2 separate regions of the Homo sapiens genome follow, and region 2 is linked to region 1. The links come from fine-mapping of genetic effects on gene expression. A gene starts in region 1. The other region holds a variant in brackets. All regions are shown on one strand. Distances are from middle to middle.

Region 1 (5,378 bases):
TCAAGAGTTATGAGCCAGACCACCTGGCTTCAAATTCAGGCTCTGTGTTATCTCAGACAAATTTCTTGGACCCTATATACCACAGTTTTCCCATCTATAAAACAGAAATAACAATTGTACCTACTGCACAGGATCATTATGATAAATACATGAGTAAAACCACATAAAGCCTTTAGAAAAATGGTGGGTACACTATAAAATTCCTGCCATTATTATTACTTATTATAGTTGCTTTTATTTGTAATCAGGAAACACAGCTAAACTGGATCATTCATCCCATTCTCCCCCACCCTCATGGACTTGCTTTGTCTAATGTGAGCACACATTAATTTCATCACATGCCAGCAAGGATTTTAAATCCAATTTGTGTTCAGCCTCTTGCTCCTGTGCCTTCGGCCATGAGAAGGGCATGTTTAATTCAGGGCTGCTCTTCAGCCTCAGTCCAGGAATGGGAAGACACATGGAGCAGACCTGAACCTACCCTGCAGTGGAACAGTCACAGCAGCAGCTAACCAAAGGCCACCAACACGAGTGAGAGATTAAGAAACAAAACAAAATCAAGTGAGAGACTAATATTTACTGTTGTGAGTTACTGAGATTTTTTGATTATTTGTTACACAAAGCGCAACCTAGCAAAAGGTGATTCATACAAAACCCATCACCAAAGCCTTCTTTGTATTAATGGCAGTTCCACCTAACTAAATATTCTGCCCAGTTGGAAACTCCAAAGTCATCCATTTTCCCCTTCCACTCAGTTATTAACTCTATAATCTTTGCTCCTCAGGTATTTATGCCCCCCTCCTACATACAACTCTAACTTTGACTCCTTCATCTCAAGACTCAACTCTCCACTGTCACCTAGGTCTAGTCTTTTCCCTATATCAATCCATCCTCCACATTGCCACCACACTGATGATTCTACCATATCCATAGGATCATGCCACTTATCTACTTAAATATTTTAATGGACAACCTGCCAAATGGAATCTAAATGTGGCTTTTGCATGGAAGATCCTCCTCTATCTGGCCCCATAATCAATCAATCCCATCACCAGACACTATTCAATGAATTCCATGTCCTAGACATGGAATTCAAGTCCTCACACCAGATATACACTTTCATAACTCAGTACCTATGTTCTTGTAACTCTCTTGGTTTATACAGTCTTACCTTCCATCCTGCACCCTGAACTTGGCCAGCTCTTACCCAAGATTCATCTCACCCATTACTTCCTATCGGTAGCTTTCTGTAACCACCTTCTCAAGCTTTAGACAACCCTTCTTACACTGTACCACAGTTACCTGCTTTCTTGTCCATCTTCCCTACAAAATTATTAGTTCCATTCCTACGCATCCATGCCAAATATCTAAAATAGTGCCTAGACCACAATAACCACTTAATAATTCTGAATTAAACATTCTGGACTGACAAACAATTGTGTGTTGTTTGCACTATTTAGATGTTATCTGTATAGGCTTAGAAATCGTGGGAACACAGTGAAATTTTCCAGCTCTGATATTTCGCAAGTTTTGAGTTTTTTGGCCTTATGATGCCTCCTAATTCCAAGAAAAGCCACTCAAAGATACTGTGGGATATTTTCTATTAACATAACCAACTTTTTTTTTTTTTTTTTTTTGAGACAGAGTTCGCTCTTGTTGCCAAGGCTGGAGTGCAATGGCACGATCTCAGCTCACTGCAACCTCCGCCTCCCAAGTTCAAGCGATTCCCCTGCCTCAGCCTCCCAGGTAGCTGGGATTACAGGCGCGCGCCACCATGCCCGGCTAATTTTTGTATTCTTAGTAGAGATGGGGTTTCACCACGTTGGCCAGGCTGTTCTCGAACTCCTGATCTCAGGTAATCCACCCGCCAGGGCCTCCCAAAGCGCTGGGATTACAGGCGTGAGCCACTGGGCTCGGCCATCATAATCAACTTTTAAACTCAAATTTCCTAAGCACAGCGCCCCTCGTTGGGCTGCTCTAGGCCAGTGGTTCCCAAAGCTGGCTGCCAAAAGTCCCCTAATGAGTTCACTAACAATATAAACACAGCGACTCCACCTGAGACCCACAAGGTCCAGAGTAGGGCTCAGGCAGCTATTCAGCTAGCTCCCCAGGTGGCAATTCTAAACCAGGCTTTAAGAACCACTGATTTCAAAGACACAAAGTACAGTGCCAGCTCTAAAAGTGAACTAAACTTTCTTGTATCTGTTAGGCTTTTCTTCTTCAAACTTCACGTGCGTCACAGAATCAACTGGGGCTCCGGACAAGAGAGCAGCAGTTGTTGAAGCGTGCCCCTCCTCCACTTGCTTCCTAGCCTGGCACCGGCGGCCAGGCCACCGGGGCGCTCAGCCTACCTGGTAGAGGGCAGAGCCCAAGTCCGGCTGGGTGCCCAGCGAGGCCACCGAGTCCCCGTGATAGGCGCGCGGCCCGGCGGGAGAGGCGCGGGCACACGGCCGCAGGGCTAACCTCAGGACGGCCCACATGGCGGCGGGCACCGAGCGAGAGAGCGGCCCACGCTGGCCTGGAGCCGGTGCTTTCCCCTGCCGCTTCCCTGGCTGGGGCGGAAGCTGAGCTCAGGTCCTTGCAGCCCCAGAGAAGGTTTCTCTGATTCTCAGGCCTGTCCACACACGTGCCTAAGCGCGCCGCCCGCGATTGGTCAAGCCGCGCCACGCCCCCTGACCCAGCCAATAAGGGACAGAGCCTCAGCCCCGCGAGGTCGCGTCTAGTCCCGAGCGCAGGAGAGCAGGTCTCCCCGGCGGATCGACCCTCACGAAGCGGTGCGGCAGTGAGAGAGCTGCGGTTGGGCTTGGATTGGTGTTGTGTTGACACAGCGATAGATAATATCACGATAGTGACTGTACCTAAGGCAGGAGAATAAGTCTGGAAGCAGGGAACCTAAGGCTGTCTCACGCTGACTTCCTAGAGCTAAACTGAAAGGAAAACCCTAACTTTCCATGCCTAAGTAACAAAAGGACCAAAGGCTACTCCCTTTGCAAACCCCCCCACCTTTTCCGCAGGGCAGATAGGAAATTGGCTGTCCCCGACAAATCAGACTTACTGCTGGTGGAGGCTTGCTTTGCCAAGTTTGAACCTTAACTCCAGCCTCTGAATGGTTGCTGTCCACAACCAATCAGACTGATTGGGGGTCCAGTCTTCGTTTGCATAGAAGTATAACTTTGTAATTTCACCCTAGCCTCTGACTGCTTGCTTCTTGCAACCAATCGGGTTTGAGGTGAGCATAAAATGGCCAATAGGAAACTTCTAGTGGGTATTTGGACCCAAGAAGATTCTATATCCGGGCCCTTGAGCTCTGCTCGGTCCGCTCCCACATTGTGGAGTGCACTTTCGTTTTCGGTAAATCCCTGCTTTCGTTCTTTCGTTGCCTTGTTCTTTCTTTGCTTTGCTGGGCGTTTTGTCCAATTCTTTGTTCACAATGCCAAGAACCTGGACAACTTGCAGTCACAACCCCCAGTGACACACCAACAACATGAGTGAATCGCATCTAACACGTGCTTGCGAACAGCACAACAAGCCTGTTGTCCTTTCACTGGAGACCTTAAACATTCTTCTGATTATTTTCGCTATGTAGTTATTTTTATTTTTTACTTTATTTCATTTTTTGAGACAGGGCCTCACTCTGTCGCCCAGGCTGCAATGCAGTGGCACGATCACAGCTCGCTGAATCCTTGACCTCCCACCTCAGCCTTTCCAGTAGCTGAGACTACAGGTTTGTGCCACCAAGCCCGGCTAATTTTTTATTTTTGTAGGGGTTTCACCATGTTGGCTATGCTGGTCTTGAACTCCTGGACTCAAGCGATCTGCCCGCCACAGCCTCCCAAAGTGCTGGGATTACAGACATGAGCCACCACACCAGGCACTATGTAGTGACAGATTGTGGACATCAGCACTGTGGTCTTAAATAAAGGACTCCAAATATACCCATAAAAATTAAAACATTCTATACAAAATGCCTTGAACTTAAGGTTTTTCATTCACATATTTATTGAGCACTTACTACTTCTACTCCATTGGTTGCTTAGTGGGGCAGAGTAAAGGGGGAGGATGGGGTAGAGAAAGGGTGCGTCTACACCTGGAGGTAAACTTAGGTTCAGACTTCAAGGTACTTATAAGAAAATAATACAAATGGCCACATGATTTCTTACTGAACTGTGTAGGACAGACATTAAAGGAACAGAATGCAATTGGGAAAGGGTTGCAGCTGAGCCTTGCAGAAGCGTTGAGAGTGGACTGAGCAATGAACATGGCCAGGCTTTGTGCAAATGGAGGAGAGCATGAGCTAAACTGCAAAGGTATGATTTACACTGTGCTTGCCTCCCATGGTCAACAGAAAAAAAGGCCAGTAAAAACTGACTTTTCATATGTATCAGGGTATCAGAAGAGAGGGTTTGATATTTTAATTGCCACACTTTATTTTTCTCTAAATAGTTCTTCAATGATGCAAAGTACTTAAAATCACCACCCGAAGACAGAAAAGACACAATAGGATATGATTCCTTGCTTTCTTTAAAAGTCATACCTGTTTTGGCCGGGTGCAGTGGCTCATGCCTATCATCCTAGCACTTTGGAAGGCCAAGGCAGGTGGATTATCTGAGGTCAGAAGTTTGAGAGCAGCCTGGCCAACATGGTGGAACCTCATCTCTACTAAGAATACAAAAATTAGCCAGGCATAGTATCACGTGCCTGTAATCCCAGCTACCTGGGAGGCTGAGGCAGGAGAATCGCTGGAACCCGAGAGGCAGAGTCTGCAGTGAGCCGACATGGCACCACTGCACTCCAGCCTGGGTGACAGAGCAAGACTCTGTCTCAAAAAAAAAAAAAAAAAAAGTCATACATGTTTCTTATTTCTTGTAACTTTTGTTACAAGAAGCTCTTTGGAAATGTATAATGTTCCCAGAACAGCTAAGTAGAAAAATGCAAAAGGTGAAGTGCAAATGCACAGAAGGCCAAAAGCAGTCACCTAGCATCTGTTAGTGTCCAGTGTCTCTCTACCCCACTATTGAGATTACAAGGAACATAATCTTTGCCATCTCTGATTTTTTAAAATAATGTTTTATTGAGGCCAGGAACTTGAAACTAGCCTAGGCAACATAGTGAGCCCATGTCTCTGAAAAATAAAAATAGCCATGCACAGTGGCATGTGCTTGTAGTCCTAGCTACTTGGAGGGTGAGGTGAGAGAATCACTTGAGTCCAGGAGTTTGAGGCTGCAGTGGGCCATGATCTTGCCAAGCACTTCAGCCTGAGTGACAAGAGCTAGACCCTGTCTCTAAAAAAAACAATAAAAATAAAATAAAAATAAAGTAAAATAATGTTTTTATTTTATTTATTTATTTATTTATTTTTCTGAGAGGGAGTCTCGCTC
Region 2 (5,378 bases), 96 kb after region 1:
TAACAGTCATTACAAGGTTGTTTTTCCCCTAAATTAGAAAAAGCTAGGGCCAGACACAGTGGCTCATGCTGAGGTGCGAGGATTGCTTGAGCCCAGGAGTTTGAGACCAGCCTGGAAAACATCTCTACTAAAAAATGTTTTTAAAATTAGCCAGTCATGGTGTCCCATGACTGTAGTCCCAGCTACTCGAGATGCTGAGGTGATAGAATCATTTGAGCCCAAGAGTTCAAGGTTGTGGTGAGCTGTGATCACGCTACTACACTCTAGCCTGAGCAACAGAGTAAGACCCTGTCACAACATTTTTTAATTATTTTAAAAATTAGAAAAAGTCACGAGTACAGTTTTGTGTAGTTTATGAAATTAGGTGTATCTCTGAACTCACACTTTAGATTATCTGTCACCTAGGAACAAACAACTATGAGAAATAGCATATGATTCCACTTATGTGAATATCTAGATTAGACAGAGTCATAGAGACAGAAAGTTGTCTACATCCTTACCGCTCTCAATGAGCCTAATTTGATCTCAAACTAAGCAAGTCTGGTCCTGATTAATACTTGGATGAGAAACAGAAAGCAGATTAGAGATTATCAGTGGTTGCAGGGAGGGGAGAATGAGGAATTACTGCATAATGGGTACAGGTTTTCTGTTTCCAGTGATAAAATAGCTTTAGAAATAGTGCTGATGGCTGCACAACAATGTAAATGTAAATAATGCCACTAAATTGTATGCTTAAAAATAGTAAACAGCTTTAAGTTTGTTTTTGGCAACAGTTTCTTAGATATGACACCAAAAGTATAGGCAACAAAAGCAAAATTAGACAAATGGGACTACATTGAACTAAAAAACTTCTGTACGCCAAAGGAAACAGCAGAGTGAAAAGGCAACCTATGGAATGGGAGAAAATGTGTAAATCATATTTCTGATAAGGTCCTAAAATCCAAACTATATAAATAATTCTCAAAACTCAATAGCAAAAAAGAAAATAACCTAATTAAAAAATTGGGCACAGGACCTGAATAGACATGTCTCCAAAGAAGATATACAAATGGCTAACAGCTATGAAAGATGCTCAACTCAATAATTATCCGGGAAATGCAAATCAAAACAACCATAAGAAACCACCTTCTACCTGTTCAGAAGGACATTATTAATAAAATAAAAGATAACAAGTATTGAAGAAGATGTGAAAAAAACTGGAACCCTGTACATTGTTGGTGGTTATGTAAAATGGTGTACCCGCTATTGGAAACAGTATGGAGGGTCCTCAAAAAATTAAAAGTAGAACTACCATATGATCTAGCAACCCCACTTCTGGGTATTTATCCACAAGAACTGAAATCAGGATCTCAAAGAGATATTTGCACTCCCATGTTCAGTGATGCCAACAGACAAAAACAACCTAAATGTCCATAAAGAAAATGTGGTCTATACATGTACTAGAATATTATTTGCTCATAAAAAAGGAAATCTTCTCATATGCTACACCATGGATGAACCTTGAGGACATTACATTAAGTGAAATAAGCCAGTCACAGAAAGAAAAATACTGCATGAGGCTGGGCGCTGTGACTCACACCTGTAATCCCAGCACTTTGGGAGGCCAGGGCAGGTGGATCACCTGAGCTCAGTTCAAGACCAGCCTGAGCAAAATGGTGAAACCCTGTCTCTACCAAAAATACAAGAAATTATCCAGGTATGGTGGTACATGCCTGTGGTCCCAGCTTCTCAGGAGGCTGAGATGGGAGGATTGCTTGAGCCTGGGAGGTGGAAGTTGCAGTGAGCTGAGATCGTGCCACTGCACTCCAGCCTGCGTGACAGAGACCGACCCCATCTCAAAAACAAAACAAAACAAAACAAAACAAAGAAAGAATCATGATTGCCAAGGGCTGGGAGGCGGAGGAAATAGGAGTTGCTGTTCAATAGGTATAGAGGTGCAGTTATGCAAGGTAAAAAAAAATTCCAGAGATCAGCAATACAACACTGTGCTTATAGTTAACAACACTGTATAGTACACATAAAAAATCTATTGAGGGTAAATCTCATGATTTTATATTACAAAATAAAATTTAAAAACACACACACACACAGCAAGACACATCACATTCAAACTAACGAAAACCAAAAATAGAGAAAATCATTACAGAAAATGATAAACCCATGCAAACGCCAACCAAAAGAAAGCTACAATAGCAAAGTAAACATCAGAAAAAAAGAGCAATACCAGAAGGATAGTACATAATGATAAAGGGAATTTCACCAAGACAAAACAATCCTAGATATGTACACACCTAACAACAGAGCTTCAAAATATATGGAGCAAAAACAAATAGAACTGAAAAAAAGAAACAGGCAAATCCACAGTTACAGATGGAGACTTCAACACTCCTTTCTCAGTAATCAACAGATGTGGATAAAACCAGAAAAGACACAGAAAATACCTTAATGAAAGGATGGGGTCAGTTCTTTTCTCAACTTTTTCAGTGGAGGCAAAACCCACAATGCCATCTATGTTTTGTGTGCAGGAAAGCATCTGCTCCTTACTGCATTCACCTTCCTTTAGCTCAGGCCTTATAGCCTGACATTTATCTACAAATACAAAATGCATGTTATTCTAAAAAATGACAGCAAAAACATCTTTTTTAGAGCACAAAGGAATTTACCTATAACACTCTTTTCCTACAAAACCTTAAGCAACATTCAAGTCCCTATTTGCAAGGCACACATCTTATTTTTAGACCATAATAAAAACTTAACATATATGAGGATCAGCTCAAGCTTCTTGGGCAATTTGTAGCATCTTCCTTTTATCTTAAATTCTAAGTATTTAAAGTGGCTTATTTTATATGTCAAGTAGGGAAACTAAAAGTTGACTTAACTATTCTTTTGCTCCTTCAGAAGTATACTAATTAGTAACACAGTAATAGCTATCATTTATTAAGTACTTACTAAGCGGCAGGAACCCTTAAGTCCATCAGATGCATTATCTCATTTAATACTTGAAACAATCCTATTAAAATATATTAACATTAACCTCATAGAGAACCCCCTGAGTTCAGAGATCTTAAGTAACTTTCCCAATGCAATACTTAAGCAAGTAAAAAAGCTGGAATTTAAAGCAAGGTCTGTTTGATTTCTAAAACCTGGTTGTGAATCATTAAGCTGTTCTGCATTATACGTAATGAC[T/C]CCAATAAGCCAAAAAAGAGCATAATATTGAGATGCCTACAAAGCATACTATGTTAGCTACCAGTACTCTTTTATTAAAATCAGATGGGTAAATCTGAACTACAGAAAACATAAATTTTATAGAAAGGTTGTTCTGGTCTGCTCCTACCTTTTCCTTGGTTATCAGCTTTAAATAATCTACATATGAACTCTTAAGGAAAGGGACCAAGACTCCCCCTCAAACTCTTAGCCCTCATCCCCAAGCAACTCATAAGTGGCAATATGTTTGCATTCAAAGAGTAAAAAAGAAAAAGGGAAGGAATACATATTCCACTAGTTCTTTTATAGGAACTAACCCCTTGTGGGTTCACAGAGGTGCTCTGTAGAGGTACAACATGAAAATCTGTGCTTTATTGACAGACATAGCAACATACTTTTAACTCTATATAGATGTGATTTCTAATCATAGTTAATGGGAATGCACAGGAGGTGATACATCTTAGAAACAAACTTTAGAGAACAATCTCCCCACTTTAATTTGTTTAATTTTTTTACATAAACTTTTTTAATTAAAAATAAACAGCGTTAGCACAGTACCATTAGTACAGAACCAATTAATAAGCATCATTAATTGCTATCTAGACAGAAAATTAAGTTACATACCATATTACTGTACATGTCTTCTCAAGTAATATAGAGGCTTTTTAAATATGTAAGAAACTTACTCTTGTGTTTTTCTCCTTTAGAAGGACCCGCCTGAACAGTGGCATTTTCTAAAAGATTGTTTACTCCCAGTTCATTAGCTCCATCTTGCTTCTTCCTCCTTCTTTTCTTTTGATTTAGGTCTACTTCTAATGCAACCTGCTCTGCATCCTCCCTTGATAAGGTCAGAGACTCTTCTTCAACTGTCTGAGCATCCTTCTGAGATCTTTCCGTGTCTGAAATTCTAGAACTCATAGACTCATCTGGATCATTATTCACTCCTTCACAGGCAACTTTTTTCACTGAAAACAAGAGAAATTACTATAAATATTTAAACAACCTAAAGAAAAATTTGTAAAGGTGGGAAAGAGACTCAAAGATGTCCTCTGTATTATTTATTTGTATGAACAAAAAACCTAAAGACAACCTAAAATGTCTAATGGGAAATGACTAAATAATATATAAAAATCCACGGAGCCAATAATAATAATGAGGTAAGATTATATGTAGTCATGTGAAAAATTTCAAAGCATATTGTTGCATTTAAAAAACCAAGCAGAACAAGATACACATAAAATCTCATTTTTATTAAACAAAAACAGTTACATATAGAGATGCTCCTTGACTTACACTGGGTTTCATCCCAATAAACCCATCATAAGTTGAGTATACTGTAAATTGAAAATGCATTTAATACAGGCTGGGCATGGTGGCTCACACCTGTAATCCCAGCACTTTGGGAGGCTGAGGAGGGTGGATCATCTGAGGTCAGCAGTTCGAGACCAGCCTGGCCAACATGGTGAAACCCCATCTCTACCAAAAATACAGAAATTAGCTGGACATGGTGGCAGGCGCCTGTAATCCCAGCTGCTCGGGAGGCTGAGGCAGGAGAATCACTTGAACACGGGAGGCGGAGGTTGCAGTGAGCCAAGATCGCACCATTGCACTCCAGCCTGGGCAACAAGAGCAAAACTCTGGGCTGGGCATGGTGGCTCACGCCTGTAATCCTAGCACTTTGGGAGGCTGACACAGGCAGATCACTTGAGGTCAGGAGCTCAAGACCAGGCTGGCCAACATGGTGAAACCCCGTCTCTACTAAAAATACAAAAATTAGCTGGGTGTGGTGGTACTTGCCTGTAATCCCAGCTACTTGGGAAGCTGAGGCAGGAGAATCGCTTCAACTGGAGAGGTGGAGGCTGCAGTGAGCTGAGATGGCACCATGGCACTCCAGCCTGGGCAACAAGAGCAAAACTCCGTCTCAAAAAAAAAAAAAAGTTCTGGCTGGGCGTGGTGGCTCACACCTGCAATCCCAGTACTTTGGGAGGCCAAGGTGGGCGATCATTTGAGGTCAGGGGTTTAAGACCAGTCTGGCCAATATGATAAAATCCCATCTCTACAAAAAAATTACAAAAATTAGCTGGGCATGGTGGCACATGCCTGTAATTCCAGCTACTCAGGAGGCTGAGGTGAAAGAACTGCTTGAACTCGAGCAGTGAAGGATTCAGTGAGCC

What was found. PIP is the estimated chance that this variant, and not a neighbour inherited with it, causes the effect. A credible set is the group of variants that fine-mapping cannot tell apart.
Region 2: its variant is the best candidate, but not a certain one, in a credible set for the expression of MCCC2 in whole blood (TOPMed, PIP 0.72).

What each region holds. Positions count from the first base shown.
Region 1 is chr5:71,584,528-71,589,905 of GRCh38, reverse strand. It overlaps MCCC2 (methylcrotonyl-CoA carboxylase subunit 2), which reads right to left and starts at 2,566. Exons shown (of 17, transcript NM_022132.5): 1 at 2,352-2,566. The coding sequence starts at 2,480. RefSeq lists an enhancer at 2,121-2,907.
Region 2 is chr5:71,488,195-71,493,572 of GRCh38, reverse strand. BDP1 (BDP1 general transcription factor IIIB subunit) reads right to left here. Exons shown (of 39, transcript NM_018429.3): 10 at 3,891-4,169; 11 at 2,442-2,589. Among named protein-coding and RNA genes, the nearest start is that of BDP1, 35 kb to the right of the region's middle. The variant T/C (reference allele first, on the strand shown) is at 3,187.